Linked DNA regions of Homo sapiens: region 1 is linked to region 2. The links come from fine-mapping of genetic effects on gene expression. Tissue or cell type: whole blood. Region 2 holds a variant in brackets; the other region holds the start of a gene. All regions are shown on one strand. Distances are between the middles of the regions.

Region 1 (8,000 bases), 130 kb after region 2:
ACTGCACTCCAGTCTCGGCGACAGAGCGAGACTCCGTCTCAAAAAAAAAAAAAAAAAAAAAAAAAGAATGCACTCATAATAGTATTTAATTATAGCAAAAATAATTAGGTTTTACTAACACTAATGACATGGCATTCTCACTCAGTCACTATGTCAGAAGTCATCTGTCACACACAGTATATGAGGAGGTTCCAAGAACCAGAGGTAACATCACCATTGACGTTCATTTTCTTCATGATGTACGCCACCCACCAGACAAAAACAAGCCTGTTAACTGCTACAAACTTTACAATTCTTTGTAATGACAGAGAATGACCATGAAAATCTTTGCTGTGCAGATTAACAATCTCCTGGGGAAAGCCTAAAATGAAATACTGAACATGGAGGAGATGCACAGTTTTATTTCAGTGTTCTATGATGAGAAATGGCTGTCAAGAGTATGCTACCTAGCACTTACTTGCAAAAACAAAAACAAACAACAAAAACACCGCTTAATCTGTCCCTTCAAGCTGTCCCTTCAAGGTTAAGATGACAGTCTATCTACGAGCGAGGAAGTCACTGCTTTTCTAAAGAAACACATACTTTAGGAAAAAGTATTTTGAAGACGGATGACTGGAAATGGTTCCAATATTGTGATTTTTTTAATTACCAAAAACAATGGTTTCACCTATCAAAACCTTTGCACACTGAAAAATTAGGAAACAGAATTTGAAAACCTATTTTTTAAAGTTAAATGAAATTTCTTAATGGCTGGAACCCATTTGTTAAGAATATAAAAATGTAACACCTTCCAATCATTCAAGAAGGATTGACTTAAGATATAAATTTACTAGTTGAATTTCAATTAGAAGTCTTTGCATTGTTGATGAATGGGATTGGAAAATAAGTATCATGATTTAATAAATGCAATCAAGGGCATACTTCTTCTGTTTGAATCTACCTATCTTTGGCAAGCATCTTTTCCAGTTATGACAGCAATTAACTTTCACCAAAAAGCATGATTTAAAAAATGTTCATTTTTAAATTTCAACCTTTTAATATTTCTACACTAGGCAATGTTGTATAAGATATGTAATAAAATATATGTAAATACTTGCTTTAAAAATATTACATATATTAAGAACACATTATCATTATTATTATCATTTTGAGATGGAGTTTCACTCGTCACCCAGGCTGGTGTGCAGTGGCGCAATCTTGGCTGATTGCAACCTCTGCCTCCCGGGTTCAAGCGATTCTCCTGCCTCAACCTCCGGAGTAGCTAGGATTACAGGCGCTCCCCACCATACCCAGCTAATTTTTTGTATTTTTAGTAGAGACGGGGTTTCACCATGTTGGCCAGGCTGGTCTCGAACTTCTGACTTGAGGTGATCCACTCGCCTCGGTCTCCCAAAGTGCTGGGATTACAGGCGTGAGCCACCGCACCTGGCCAAGAAAACATTATTTTAAAATGTGTGGCAACCAGTGGTCTGTCACCACAGAGCAGTGTCCACATTTGAGAGCATCATTTTTGCGGGTAGTATGGGAAAGAAAGACACAATTAAGTCAGCAACAATCTAGACTGTGCTTCAAATGCTGGGCAGATCACCTGTTTTGGGGAGTTCTGGCCTAGGGGTTGGTGGAGACAGGGTGAAGGAAGCAGGTTCTTTTATTTGCCAACCTATACCTGATATACATTAAAGGGAAAGTTCCTGGTTCATAGTAGGTCTTCAACTGATGCTTATTCGTTTCTTTTTCCTCTTGCAATTTGCATATCTACCACTTCTAACACTGGTGAGGTCACTCCAGAGCTCACGAATGTGTATAGATAATTTACATATACATATCCACCCCCTCCCAGAACAATCCAGGTAGTGTGAAAGGAGAGAACTTATGCAAACACCCCACTGCCTGCAGAGTATTTTACAATGGCATTTACCTAGGCAAGAAGGCAAAGTCCACTCCCCAATCCTAGTGAGAGTTTTTTTATTTTAATAATTTTTTAAAAAAAATTTTATTATTATTAGTTTTTTGAGACGGAGTCTCGCTCTGTTGCCCAGACTGGAGTGCAGTGGCGCAATCTCGGCTCACTGCAAGCTCCGCCTCCCGGGTTCAAGCGATTCTCGTGCCCTAGCCTACCGAGTAGCTGGGATTACAGGCACGCGCCACCACGTACGGCTAGTTTTGTATTTTTAGTAGAGGGGGGGGGTTTCACCATGTTGGCCCAGGATGGTCTCGAACTCCTGACCTCAGGCCCCGCCTCGGCCTTAATGATTTTTAATCATAACGCTCGGCACCTTCTGACAAATGTCACGTTACTTGTAAAGATTTAGAAACTGTGATTCTATGAGAGGGGGTTATGAAAATAGAATTGCTCTGGAAAGGCTCTTCCATAGAGTTCAAAGACACTTCACACAGCCTGCTATTAAGATGCCCAACCCAACCCGAGAGGAAACAGCGAAGGGTCTTCCCCCTAAGTCGGTGGTATTAGAAGTGGGAAGGACCACAGAAACGGGAGGAAACAGTTAAAAGAACTGACACCACGAAGGAGGCCGCAACAAATGTTTGAAAAATAAGATCAGAAGAGAGGTGGAGAGAGGGTGAGCCGCAGCTGCGGGCGCCGGGGTAATGCCGGTGGACGCAAAGAGGTAAACCTGCACCCGTGGGCAGGGGCACGGGGCGCGGGCACGGTGGCTGGGCGGGCAGGGGGTAGGAAACAAAGGTCGGCTCCCGAGCAGAAGTCAATAAAAGGGGGAAAAGCAGCCGAGGAAAAGCGGCGAAAAGGCGGCAGGGGTGGCGGTGGCGGTGGCGGCGGCGGGGACGGCGCGCGGTGCCTGGCGGGGTCAGGGCCGGGGTCGCCCGCGGGCCGGGCCGGGGATCCGGCTGAGATGGGAACCCGCTAGGCCGCGCCGAGGGGCAGGGCCGGCGACTGAGGGGCCGCAGAGGGGACCGGCCGAGGAGCGACGGCAAAGGGTTGTGGGGGGCAGGGCGCGCAGGGAGGCCGGGACAGGGGCGGGCCGGTCGGCGGGAGTCGCGGCCGCGGGAACCGAGGCAGGGAAAGGCGGTCAGCTTCCCGCCCCCGCCCCCGGCCGCCGCGGCGTGAGGGGAAAGGCCGGCGGGCGGCGGGCAGCGCAGCGAGGAGGAGGAGCCTGCGGCCCCGCCCCGCGGGAGCGAGGGAAGGAGAAAGGCTCGCAGGGAAGGAGGGAGGGAAGGGGGGCGGCCGGCCGGGCCTGCGCCCGAGCGAGCGGCGAACCGAGGGGGAAGGGGCCCGGAAGGAGGCGAGCGCGGCCGCGACGCCGGCAGTCGGACGCCCGCTCGTGCCGGCCTGCCGCAGCCGCCGCAGCCTTCCCTGTGCGCCGAGCCTGGCGTCCCGAGCGGCCGCGAAGGCCGGAACACGGCGGTCGGGCGCGGGGCGAGCGGCGCCGGGAGCCCGAGGCCCGGCCGGGCGTCCTGCGCGAGGCACTGCGGGCTCCTGCCTGCGAGATTAGGCGAGGGGCGGAAAGGGAGGCAAGGAGAGGCCGAGAGGAGACAGGCGATCGGATTTTCCAGGAGTCTGGTGTGGAAGAAAAACCCACCTCGAACTCAAATCCACAATAATAATCCGAACGAATAATAAGGGAGCCGTCTTTCTGGCCGGGCGAGAGAGAGGGAGAGAGAAGGGGGAACGGGAGGAAGCGAAATCTCCGTTTCATGGAGGCTGAGGCAAGAGAAAATTTCGGAGCCTGGATGTGGAGGAGCCCAACAGCAGAACTAACTCAGGAAATTGTCTTTCAGAAAAAGGCCGAACGTAGGCTGGGTCTGAGAATCAGGCTGGGGTAGGTGGAGGAACCTGCAAGTTTAAAGGAAAAAGAAAAGGAGAGAATATTTTCAGAGATTATCTCTGGTTTGTTATCATTACTACCATCTTAAAGGTAAAAAGCATTGCATTTCAGGTGTTCTTTGATTTTTATTTTATTTTTTTTTTTGGTGCAATTGGCTCATTTAAGAATTTCAAAACATTTAATGTAAAAGCTTTTTTTTTTTTAAGGAAGTCCATAAATTTTGGTTCCCAGGGTTGCACTGGACTTGGAAGGAGTGCTGTTGTGTACATACTATTGTATGGTTTTATTTATTATTTTACTGTACAAATCAGCCGAAAGAATTTTTCCAAGTGCCATTTCGGATTTATTAATCCTTTTTTTTTTCCTTTCCTCAAAGATATTTGCTGTTGTCATATTAAGCATTGGAGACTAGAAAATTACTTTCCCCCTTTGAGCTAGAGGGTCTCTTGCCAACAGAAGGACAGCTGAGAAAGCTGGATTTAAAGGATGGTTTTATCTGTACTTTGCAGTTAACAGTGATATTTTGAAGGCACATTTTTCTGTGATTCATTTTTTTTTGGCCATAGTGCTAACCTTGAAGAGATTCGTGGCTGGGTTTTTGGTTTCTGAGAAGGTCGTAGTTTTTCCTCTTTTCCTTTTTTTTTCTTTTTTCTTTTCTTTTCTTTTTTTTTAAAGCGGGGGAGGGGAAGAGGGGCTGAGAAAGGAAATCATGTTCACTGGTAGAAGTAGAGTGGAGCATCAGTTACCAGGGTCCTGAGAGCTGGAGGAGAAAGGATTCTATCTTCAAGTTGGGAGGCCCTCCTCTCACCTTGCTCAAAAATTGCAAGCGATTCAATCCTGATCAAGACACCAAAGCTACAGGATTCTGGAACCGTGGAGACACCGAGAAACCATGAGTGTAAGGTTACCCCAGAGTATAGACAGGTAGGTTTGCTAATAATTTGATTTTTCAACATTGACTAAAGGAAAGACTGGGAGGGGTGGTGTTGCATTTTAATAAATGGTTGAAAATAGGGGTCTGGGTGGGCTATGGGAATTGGTGGGCTAGGAGCATTAGTCTCTGGGGACTGTCAGCCTATGTGGTTATGTGCAAAAACATAGCTCTTGATTCAGCGTCTTTTGAATATAAGCAATAAACAGTGAAGCCAGGAGAGGGAAAGGAGGAGGATGTGCTTCCAGTGGCTTTTGACTTTTGCCAGGGTAGAGGCTGAATTTGAGTCCACCCAACTTGCTAGTCTCAGGTGGGGGCAAGCCAGTCTTGTGAGCTCCTAGGGTTGCACTAGGGGGACTGGCTTTAGGTGTTGGAGCTGCTGGGAGAAGGGCCCTGGCAGAGGCGTGGGCCTCCACCAGGCTGGTTGGTATGGAATGGTGGGGCTTGGTGACGGGGTGGATCCCATTTCTAGAAATGAAGAGGATGTTCTTGGCCTGAATGATGGGACAGAAACATCCTTTGCACCCATGCAAGTCTGGATTTTTACCAGTAGCTGACATGGTCCCAAAATGCATAGATCACATTAGAATTTCCTCTCCTCCAAGCTTAGAGTTTGAATTGAGACCTGCCAACCGGCTGATGCTCTAGGTTTAATCTTCCAAGCTGTTCTTAATAAGCTTGACTCTGCAAAATGGGCCTTCCCTCTGCCTGGAGCCAGAAGAAATTGTTTTGGGCTCGTAGGCCTGCTGGGCAGCAGCACTGGCCCTCAGAGTCTGAACACATGACACCCCTTGCCCCAAGAGTCTGCCCAGCCACCTCTATCACTGGTAATGTTACTGTGTGGTTGCAATTCTTACCTCCAAATGATTGGTACAACTTTGTAAGGTGTCTGCCTTTTCCTTCCCTCCCCTACCCCTCCTCAACGCTTCTCCCCATGAGAACCTTGCTGTGGGGGGTGTGTTTTGTGGGCACTGCACACATCCTAACTGGATAGATGGGTGGTTGAAGGACTGAACAAGCAAATGAAAGGACTGGGCCTGGAAAAAAATATTATTGGAGAGATAGGGAAGAATATTTGCAAGGGAGCAATTGTTCCCTCCATGCCCAGTCCACCTTCGGTTATCCATGCTAATAATAATTTCCTTTTGGTTGTGGAATGTGGCCTAAAATGCATATAATCTCTCTCTCTCAAGCACTAATCTCTGTATTGCCTCAGAGTCCCATTTAGATTAGTTCAGCAGTCCCTAGATGGGAACTGACTTGGCAGTGGAGAAGAGGAGGCAGACAGCCACAAAGGATGTACGGCCAGTTCAGACCTCCTTCCTCCTTTCTGTTGGCCTCTCTGCAGTTTGACCCTTGGAAAGGGAGAACTGAGGTGTGTCAAGGTGAGGAATTGGAATGGTTTACATGGCTGCCCTTCTTCCCTTTTCATCCTCTTGGAGTTTGAGAATTAGTGCACTTGCCTTTTTAAGATTTGGATGGTGAACTCTTTCTGGTAAATGCAAGGATTTGAGAAGATGGGAACCCAAGTTTTGGGGGCGTGCAAGAAGGAGGAGGCGGTGAGCCTTCCTGGGTTGATGTGAGACACTCCTGGGGGTTTGGATATCCTCATAGATAAAAATCTCAGGATTTGCCCAGCACATTACAGTTTCCTAAGTGCTTTCGTAGAACATATCTCATTTGAATCTCACAGTGGTTCTGTGTGAGGTAGACAGAAGCATCAGAGGTTATTATTCATGTTTCACAGAAGGGGAAACTGAGGCTCAGAGAGGCTACCTGGCTTGCCCAGTGCCATCTTGCCTGGCTAGTGGCAGAATCTGGACTCAAAGACTCAAACACAGGTCTTCTGAGTCTGAATCTGTAGCTCTTTCATTGCCCCATCATGTCTAACTAGGCTTCTGTACTGGTCCTGTAGAATGTGTGGGGCACCGTTTTCTCCTTTCTCTTTGGTAGTAGGGTAAAGTGCCCGTCAGCAGTCAAGGTCTTCCCTTCTACTTTTCTGTCTTGGGGCTCCTACCTTGGGGGTTCAGTCTTGGGGCTCATACCTGTAAGTCCTATAGTTAAAGCACTATTTTCTCTTGTAAGATAGTGCAGCTTTGCAGGGTAAGGGTATTCCTCACCTCCACCCTGCCTGATTCTCTTCCCCATTAAGAGTGGTAGGACTCAGATCCCCTTCAGACATCCCCAGCTAGCTGCACTGAATCTTACTCCCTTAACTGTAGGCTTATTCAATTGTAACTTTGGGCAACATCAGCCTCAAGACTCTATGGATTTTAAATAATTTACAGATTTAAATCACACTGAAAGGAATAATACGCTGCGGATTATGGAGTCTAGTATTCTTTCAGTTTATCAGTTTGCTGTGTAGAGAGCCTAGTGTAAGGTGCTATAGGAGAGTTTTAGAAAATTAAGGTGTACAGTACTTGCTCACAGAGAGAGCATGCAACTGGGGGACTGGGAAACACGTAAGACTCTTGAAGACCACATAAAGCAACACCAGACTGTAAGCCCCTCACAAGCAGGGACAGTTTGGTTTGCCTGTATGAAATCCTGTGTGCCTAGCTTAGTGTCTTGCATGAGGTGAGTACTCAAGAAATGTTTGACAAATGAATGTTAGAGTGAATGAACAGATCAGCAAGTACAAATTATTTCATTGCGGGTTGTTTCAACATTCACGTGTTAATTTCAAATGTAGTCAAATAAGGTCAATTAGAGAAGGTTTCCTAGGTAATGTGTATTTTCTAGAAAATAAATGACATAATAAAGGACTATGTATTTGGAAAGAGATTGTAGCTGAGAGTAAGAAAATTTTGGAATATTTACTTGGCAGTCTTTCATCTCCTGTAGCACCCTGTTCAAGAGTGACTCCTGGGTCCATAGAAAGCATAAAGTATTTGCAACTATTCTTTATCTTTCAGTGTTAATCAGTTGTTACTGAAAGATGGGCTAAAGTGTAGCTGTTCATGTCCCTTTCAGTTTTTGTCCATGGGCAACTTACTGCCCATTAATATATATTCCTTTCAAGAGTTTCTAAAAATGTGTTTGCTATTGCAAACAGAGATAATGATACTAAATTATTTTTACAGGAGTGGTCATGAGTTTTGCTAAGCCATCTATATCTGTTAGCCTGGTTCCCCCATGGCAAATGTTTTTGAGATGGACAGGAGGGTTAGGGGTTTGCATCCATGAAACATCTTTCCTCTGCCCAAAGTTAGTTCATGTGAGGATCAAACCAAAGTACTTTAAGCCAAGAGTTTGTGGTTTGAGTC
Region 2 (8,258 bases):
ATGGTCTTTCCAAATTCAAGTCCCCTCTCAGTGAAGTGAGTCTGCCACACTAGGATGACTTCAGACCTTGAGGAGCCACACCAAGGGAGAGGGAGGCCAGGCCTGTCCCAGGCGGCATCTCACCTCCCTCATACCACCCCCAGGAAGAGGAACCAAGGCCTGTGGCTCCATATCCAGAGCCTCTGGGCCCCAAGGCAGCCCTGGACCAACCACAGCCACCTCCGTCTACACTCTGCCAGTCACAAACAGGCCTGCACTGCCTCACGCCCAGCACAGCCCTGCACACATGCTGGCCTGAAAAGCCTCGGTGGTCTCACTGGGGACCCTCATACTCTAAGGTGGAGGTGGCCAGCCCTGCCCTCCTCCCTCGGGGCTCATGGTCTCATTTCACAAGGTGTTTTCATCCTAGTCTTCGCCACCTCAATCATGCCAACTACGTTACCTTTTGAACCTGGGAAAGGCCCCACTGATGGAGAGACAGCTTGGGCCTATGGTAGGGCCAGCTCCCGCCCAACGTCAGTGTGTTGGTGACATTCGCACTCCAACCACAGCAGACAGGTGCCTTTCTGCAGGACTTCCTTTATCTCAAGAGTTCCTTCTCAGTTCTTGGTTTCCAGAATCTCTCTTTCATCCAGCAGAGGAGGAGGACAGGCCACATCACCCAGTCCAACCTCCAAACCCACCAGGGACTCAGGTCACAGCTGCTCCACCCCCCAGGGAAGCCTGTGGTCTCTGCAGATCCCAACTGCAACCCCAGAACGTGCCCACAGACCTTTGAGCCCCCTCTCGATGGGGCACAGAGGAAAGGGAGAGCCCAGCAGGAGCTGTTCACTGGGAAAACAACTCCTCATTTACAGGGGTTAGCCCCATTCCTTATGGACCACAGAAGGATGCCCCGTCAGCCTCCAGTCTGCCCACCTGCACCCAGTGCCTGAGTAAGAGCCTTCCCTGCCATCCCCTATCAAACGTCTGCTGCCCCTTCCACATGCAGCTCACCTGGCCCTGGGGAGCCGTCCCCGACCTGCCCCAGGTGAATTAGGTGCTCTGGGCTCTCCCAGCACTCTTAGCTGTTGTCCATGAAGACCCTGAGGGTGTCATGTATGCTCTGGAACAAGACAAGCAGCTTCCATCTAGGCTACAGGCGGCAGCCTGCTCTGATTGTCATGCAGCACATATTTACTGAGCACACCTGAGCCTGGCACTGGAGGAGACTTCCCTTCCTGTCCAGTCACCACCTGCTGCTGTCACTGAGCCCCTAGGTGGTTTCAAAGAGAGCACAGCCTCACTCAGCACCTCCCCTTCTGACAGACATCTCAGCCCACAAGGGGCCCACGTTCTGTGGTAAAATGAAGGAGAGCTCCTCTCCCTTAAATGTTCTCAGGCAGCCCTGAGCAGTCAGGTGTGTGCTATTGTTCCATAGCTGACACAGCAGCCCACCCTGGCTGTGTGGTGCCCACCTCCTTAGGAGCCTGCAGGGCTCCAGCTCAGGGCTGGGCCCCAAGACACACTCCAGCATCAGCCATCTTGCTTGCCAGAGGAGGCGCATCAAATGCAGGTTGAACTTCTCAAATGCAGTTATTTGCCCTCAGCAAAAAAATATGAGAGGCGGGAAAATATCCATTTAAATGTGCAGCAATTCTACTCAGATCCCAAAGTAAGTATGACATGGGAGCCGCAAATCCATGGTGCCCCTGGTCCATCTCTCTGCTCTCGCCTGCCTCTCAGATGTGCACCTTCTGCTGCCTGGTGGGCAGCAGTGAGCAGGTAGCAGTTTAACCACTGGCTCCACAGGAGGAAAAAGCCCTGGTTTCTAGTAATTGCTAATTTCCATGGTGTAAATATTCCCACTCTGTCTAATTACAACCACCAACATCATGACTATGAACACAGATTTGGGAGGAGATGCACAAAACCAGCTCACAAGCCGGCTCCAGCTGGCTCCAGCACACACTGTCTGTGAGTGGATCTAATAATTAAATATGCAGGACACATTTTTCATATAGCATGGCCCCTCAACACCAGCCAACCATTTCATCGGGAAGAAAACACAGCCTCTTCCCAAGCAGAAGGAGAAACTTGCTGAGGGATGGAATGTTGGTCTCCAGTAGAGCAGCACTCTAGGGGATCCACACAGCAGATTGTAACTGTAATTGATTTCCACCTCAGAACCCAATTCTTCCCATCAATCACCAAAGCTAAGGCTTGGTTACTCCTCACCCAGCCTCCTCCTTCACTGCTGGGCTGTCCCAGCCTAAAACTCACGTGGGGTCCCCACTGTCCACTTCCCCACAAGACTGTGTAGTCTGAGGGCACAGAAAGGCTTTTCCTTTGGGAGCCCAGCATGCTTGGAGACAGGACTTGGAATCCAACTGGACGTTGATTCCATTCCTGCTTCTACCGCTAAGCTCTGTCATCCAGCAGATCCTCAATGGCCTCATCTGGAAAATGAGATAATACCTCCTCTGCAGGGTTGCTGGGAGGACTAAATAGATAGAAGAAAGCCCCACACACAGCACAACACACAACAGGGCAACTCCGACTCCCTCCCCTCCCCTCCCCTATTCTTCCCCGGAGAAACAGGGCTGAGCCATAGTCGGGCAATGTCGCCACTTAGTGGCTGTGCTCAGAATTGCCCAAAAGACCAACAGTTCCTGGATTTGAGGAAAACAGGGAAAGCACTTAGGGAAGAGGTGTTGAGTTTCTGAGAAGCCATTTGGCATTATGGAAAGTGACTGGGTACCGGCATCTGGAAAACCAGGTTCAGGTCCCAGCCTTGCCAAATATTAGCTGTTTGATCCTAATCAAATTATGTAACTTCTCTAAGCATCAGTTTCATCATGTGTAAAATGGGGACGATAATTTTAACCTCAGATTAATGCTCGGAAAGCGTTTGTTGCCCTTATCTTGCTCCTGATGCTCTTCCAGCCCTCTCTCCCCATCCTGATAAACATCACCTTCCTGGTTCCTGACCCCCCATTAGCTCCCCAGGGCCACAGCTTCTCATCCCTGTTTTCAGGAGCACTAATTCCCCCAAGACACTACCTCTCAGAGAGAGATTTTCAAAGTCCACCGTCTTATCCTCATTGCTTCAGGCTCAAAAACTTTACATTCTTACAAATTTAATAATTCCTAGTGACACATTCATGGTGACAAAATTAAGTCGAGATTATATACAAAGCAGAATGCCAAGTCTCTCATTTACAATAAAAGTCACCCATCTCTGGGAACAGGTACCAAGCCAGAGAATCAGGACACCCTCTTCCCATTAACAAAGTCTCTTCCCAACCACAAGGGCTGTTGCTGGACACAGACTCCGAGATGGTCACGGTGAGAGACTGTTTGTCCCACATTCAGGAACATCCCGAGACTCCCTAACCCCGGCTTCAAACACCTCCCTGGTTGGCAGATGCCTGTGACCCTCGTCCCGAGGACACGCGCCCACCAGCCTCGCTTCCGCGCTGACCAGCACCTTCCAGGTATCAAGCCCTCCCCACATGGGCCGAAGCCTTAGTCAGCTGGCCTGGGAAAGCCCAGGCTTTAGAACTGCACAGAATTGGGTCTGAATCTCATTTCCCACTTATTACCTTAGTGACCCTGGACAGATTGCTGAACTTGCCTGAGCCTGTGAGCTCATCACAATGGGGCACAAGCACCCACTTCAGGGAGTGTCTGCGTTGAGTAAGTGAGGCCCTGTGCGTGCCCAGTGAGGTGCCCGGCAGATGTTCAGCCAATGATCCTATTTCATTCCAAACCCCGCATCTAGGAGATCCTTCCTCCTTTGTGAAGGTGCTGGATTTACCACCAGGCCAGAGTCCAGGGCGCCCCCTCGTGGCTCTGCGTTTACCAAATTTTATTTCAGAATAAAATTATTGGCCGGCTCGTTGGCTCACACCTGTAATTCCAGCACTTTAGGAGGCAGAGGCGGGAGGACTGCTTGAGGCCAGGAGTTCAAGACCAGCCTGGGCAACAGAGCAAGACCCTGTCCTTCCTAAAATTTTTAAATTAAAAAAAAAAACCTCTCCTTGAGGA[T/G]AGGAGACACCTGAGGAGAGATACCCCCACTAATTCCTCAGCCATCTCACTTTTGTATTTTAAAATAGGAGCCACTAAAATCCATTTACAATGAAAGAAAAATGTAAATGTATATCTATAAGGCATTTTTCCCTCCGTAAACACAGTAGATTCTTCACTCATCAGAATGAAATGTCATTAAACCTAAGCAAATGGATAAGCAGAGTAAATTATACATTTCTATCTAAAAGACTGGAACAAACAGGTCCATTTATCAGAATCTAAGCAATAAAGCAGCATCCCCACCCCAATCTAGGAAAAATATCTACTGCTAATTGCTCTGCCTGGGTGTTCCTGTATTTGGGCTTAAATTAGTTTTGAGCCATCTCCTAAAGCAGTCTCTACAAAAAGCCAAAATCTGTTCTTCTAACATAATATGTGCAGGTGTCCAACAGGCCTTATGGGCCTCAGACATCTGCTTAGGTGTTTCCTGGCCTAGGGGCCCCCGGCCATATATCAGACAGTTGACATTTATTAAGCACTTACTATGTGCCAGGGGCTGAGGCTACACACTTGATATGCATCTCATGAATCCTCAAACAACTCTATTATTTCTTTTCTTCTTTTTTCTTTTACAAACCCTTGTGTCAAGGGCTGAGTTTCAATAGATCACAGCAAGGGAGCTGCTCTGCTATGTACAAAACCCCAAACATTATGATCATTATGTCTACTTCACAGGTGAGAAAGTGAGGCTTAGAGAAGCAGTGATTTGTCCAACATCCTAGACAGATAAATAACAGTAAGGATTCAAACCTAGGTCACTCTGGCCCCAAAGCGCTTGTTCTTGTCCTACACTCCCAATACAATCTTGATTGCTTTTCTCAACGCACCTTTACAATAACATCTGCACTAGGACAACTATTACTGAGCTTGTCCAGTAGCAAACAACAGACTCTATGTTTTCTTTGCTGAATTCATTAACTTTTTCATATTTTGGGAGGACCAAATAACATTTCCTTCAGTGGCTTTTACTTCAGCCACTCTCATTCCCTTCTAAAGATGTTTGTGATGAATTTCTGACCCATCTGTGCCCTTAAAGTCTGCTCATGTCCAACAAAGCAGGCAAATGATAAGACCTTATGGACTTAGGTGGCATCTGTGTCTGTAGATGGAAAATCCCCCTCTCCACTCCTACTGCTCGAAACCAAGCACACTTTGTGTCTAGATCTTGGTTTCTAAAGCCAATCCCTGCAAAAAGAACTAGACCTTTTTGGAGAAATGGCTGATTGTTGATTCTGGGACTGAAACAAAATATACAATGTGAGCTCAGAGCGTCCTGTAGTGCCAGAACCAGAACGTAAGGAAGTGCTGAACAACAACAAAAAGACACGACAGGAGCCTGCTACAGAGCAGCCAATGGCCACAATGGGAAACTATTTGAGCCACAAAATAAAGTAGTATTGATTAATAACCCAAAATATAAAATAAATATCAATGAGTTCCTATGATATCAATGCATAATTGAATGAATCAATAATTGGACGAGAAGAAAGAATCTCCTGTGGAGAATAATTCCAAACCTTATGAAGATACTCCACCCTTAAGAAGGCGACACCTAACTCTCACTCCTGCAGTGTGGGCTCCATGGAATGACTTTTTCCAAGGCATACAATATGTAAAGGAAGGGGAAAGGGTAAATTGACAGTGGATGAACCTGCCAAACACGATCTTTGACAGGTGATCAACATCAACATAAGATTAAGTCCTGTTGATAGTATGTACTGTGATAAAACGTGATGAAAATGGTGTTTCTTCTGTGGTCTTCCTCCCAAAAACCAAGACCCAAAATCCAAGTCTCATCATGAGAGAAACATCAGGCAAATCCCAATTGAGGAACATTCTTCAAAACACACGACCAGTACCCCTCACGAAAGTCAGCGAAAACAAGGAAAGTCTGAGTAGCTGTCACAGCCCAGAGGAGCCTACAGAGATGTGTAGGGTGGGATCTGGGAACAGAAAAGGACATCGCGTAAAAACTAAGGATGTCTGAAGAAAGTATGGACTTGAGTTCATAAGAATGTATCCATATCGGTTCATTAATTGTAACAGATGTTAATAGCATAAGATGTTGATAAAAGGTGAAACTAGGTGTGGAGTCTGTGGGACTCTCGGTACTATCTGCCTAATTTTTCTGTAATGTAAAACTTTTATAAAATATAAAGTTTATTTTATTTAAAGTGCTGCCACTCCTAGGCCCATGTTCCTTCTTATTACCACAGTTCGTGACAGATACTCAGGCATGTCCAGACATCATTTCCACAGAGGCCGGCCAGGTCTGTGTGTGAGGCTTCTCCCCTCTCTTACCCAGGAGCTCTCGTTCCAAATAAAACCCTGTTCCCACTGCTGACTTACAAAAGCAGAACTGAAAATTGATCGGGCTCTGTTTGGAGTCTCGGTTCACAGGGGCTGACTCCACATCCATTCCTCAGATACTCACTGAGCACAGCCTCTGTGCCAGGCACAGCCAGGGGACCAGGATGAGCGCGGCGTGAGTGCTCCTGCCTACACCATGTGCAGTCAAGTGTGGGAGAGGTGTTAAACAGGGAAACGGGCAAGGGCCAAGGAAGTTCTCTGGGCCGTCTTTCCTAAGGGCCCTAATTCCATCCATGAGGCTCTGCCCTCATGACCTAATCACCTCCCAAAGTTGCCTCCAAAAGCCATCTCATCAGGGATTAGGTTTCAACCTATGAAAGAAGGGAGGATACAAACACTCGGTCTACAGCAATTAGCAAACTTTCAGTTCTCTTATATATTAAATGGCCATTTGTATTTCTTGAGTCTTCAGTCTTTCCCCATTGTTCTAGGGCGCTGTTAATCTTTTCCTTATTCATTTGTAAGAGCTTTGGTATATTAGAAATTAGCTGTCTGCCCTATGTGTTCAGAACACTCTTTTCTTTGTTTATTCCTTCCTCATCCCCCCATCAGGGGCTTTGAATGGCTCTAGCAAGCCGACTTTGAGTTTAGGGTGGGCCAGGTGATGACGATGTGTGGGAAGGACATGCATCAGGTGGCACAGTGCCTCGTCTTAAGCATCTGCTTCTCCCCAGGGACTAGCAGGACCCTGTCACTTTTGTGGTGCTCAGCTGTATGGGGAACTGTATAGGGAAGCCACATTTTGCAGGAAGACAGCAAGAAGTGGTCAGGGAATCTGTTCAGTGAGTCGGGGGGCTGTTGGCCCACAAGACAGGCACATGTCACAGCTTCAAGAGGAGGAGGCTCCTATGAAGTATCTTGCCCTGGAATGTGCAGCATTGTCTGCACAGCTGCTGGGAGCCTCCAATTACTGTGCCACTGAGGCCAGCTTCAGGCCTTTCCCAATTGAAGGTCCCCCTGAACACTTAACGACCAGACGGCAGCAGCAGGCCTACCTGCTGGGCAGCCCACAGGGTGGGATGGTCTGTTCAGATAGAAGCCAGTGCTCTTTATAAAGAACTGAGGCTTGTCCCAAAGGCAAGAATGGCTGCACTGAGATGCTAATAGGCAAAGGGGAGGCCATGGGTCCCATCTAACCCAGAAACAAAATAAACTGTGGCAAGCAAGTGCTTCTGGGACCCCAGTCCATGGAAGTCATGATGGGAGACATACCACAGCACAGCAAAGAGGTGGAAAGAGCCCTGTTTGGCTGCTTTGTTTTGTTTGGCCTTAAAAAAGGACAAGACCTCTCACACCAGCTCCCTTAGAAGCCCCCAAGCTGCAGCCAAGCTCCTGCAGTACCAGGCCTGCCCACACACTTTGAAGATTCCTGGGGTTTCAGTTCCAACTGTGGCTCTCACCTTTTTATTTTCTGGAGGGCAATTCTTCCAGAATATGTTTTAGGGAATTTGAAGAGTTATTGCCAAGCGGGGTTTCAATGATGCTAATCAATTTCCTGGTCGTCTGCTCCATGCCACTGTCTGCTGGCATCATGCCAGAGGAAAGAACCTCAGCTCTAATGACTCGAAAAATATTGCCACTAGCCTGCAGGAATCGGTGGTTAAAGCGGAATCTGGGCAACATCAGAGGCCTCTGTGTAGCAGACCTGGAGTCCCCTAATGCTAAATCCACACCAGTTAGCAGGTGTATCTCATGAGGTTGGATGTGTTCCATGGCCTTGTCTGGTCAAGGTAATCACACCTTCCAGGAGATTTCTTTCAAATGTAATTTCTCAGAGTGATAGAGATGATGCTGACCGGTATCCCCACCTATACGCA

What was found. PIP is the estimated chance that this variant, and not a neighbour inherited with it, causes the effect.
Region 1: it holds the start of ARHGEF11, and the variant in region 2 is fine-mapped to the expression of ARHGEF11 in whole blood (TOPMed, PIP above 0.99). The same link has a PIP of 0.9 or more in lung.

The regions. Positions count from the first base shown.
Region 1 is chr1:157,041,023-157,049,022 of GRCh38, reverse strand. It overlaps ARHGEF11 (Rho guanine nucleotide exchange factor 11), which reads left to right and starts at 3,281. Exons shown (of 41, transcript NM_198236.3): 1 at 3,281-4,724. The coding sequence starts at 4,693. RefSeq lists a silencer at 3,071-3,370.
Region 2 is chr1:157,166,482-157,174,739 of GRCh38, reverse strand. LOC107985211 (a long non-coding RNA gene) reads right to left here and starts at 1,249. Exons shown (of 4, transcript XR_007066653.1): 1 at 997-1,249. RefSeq lists an enhancer at 1,458-1,959. The variant T/G (reference allele first, on the strand shown) is at 4,030.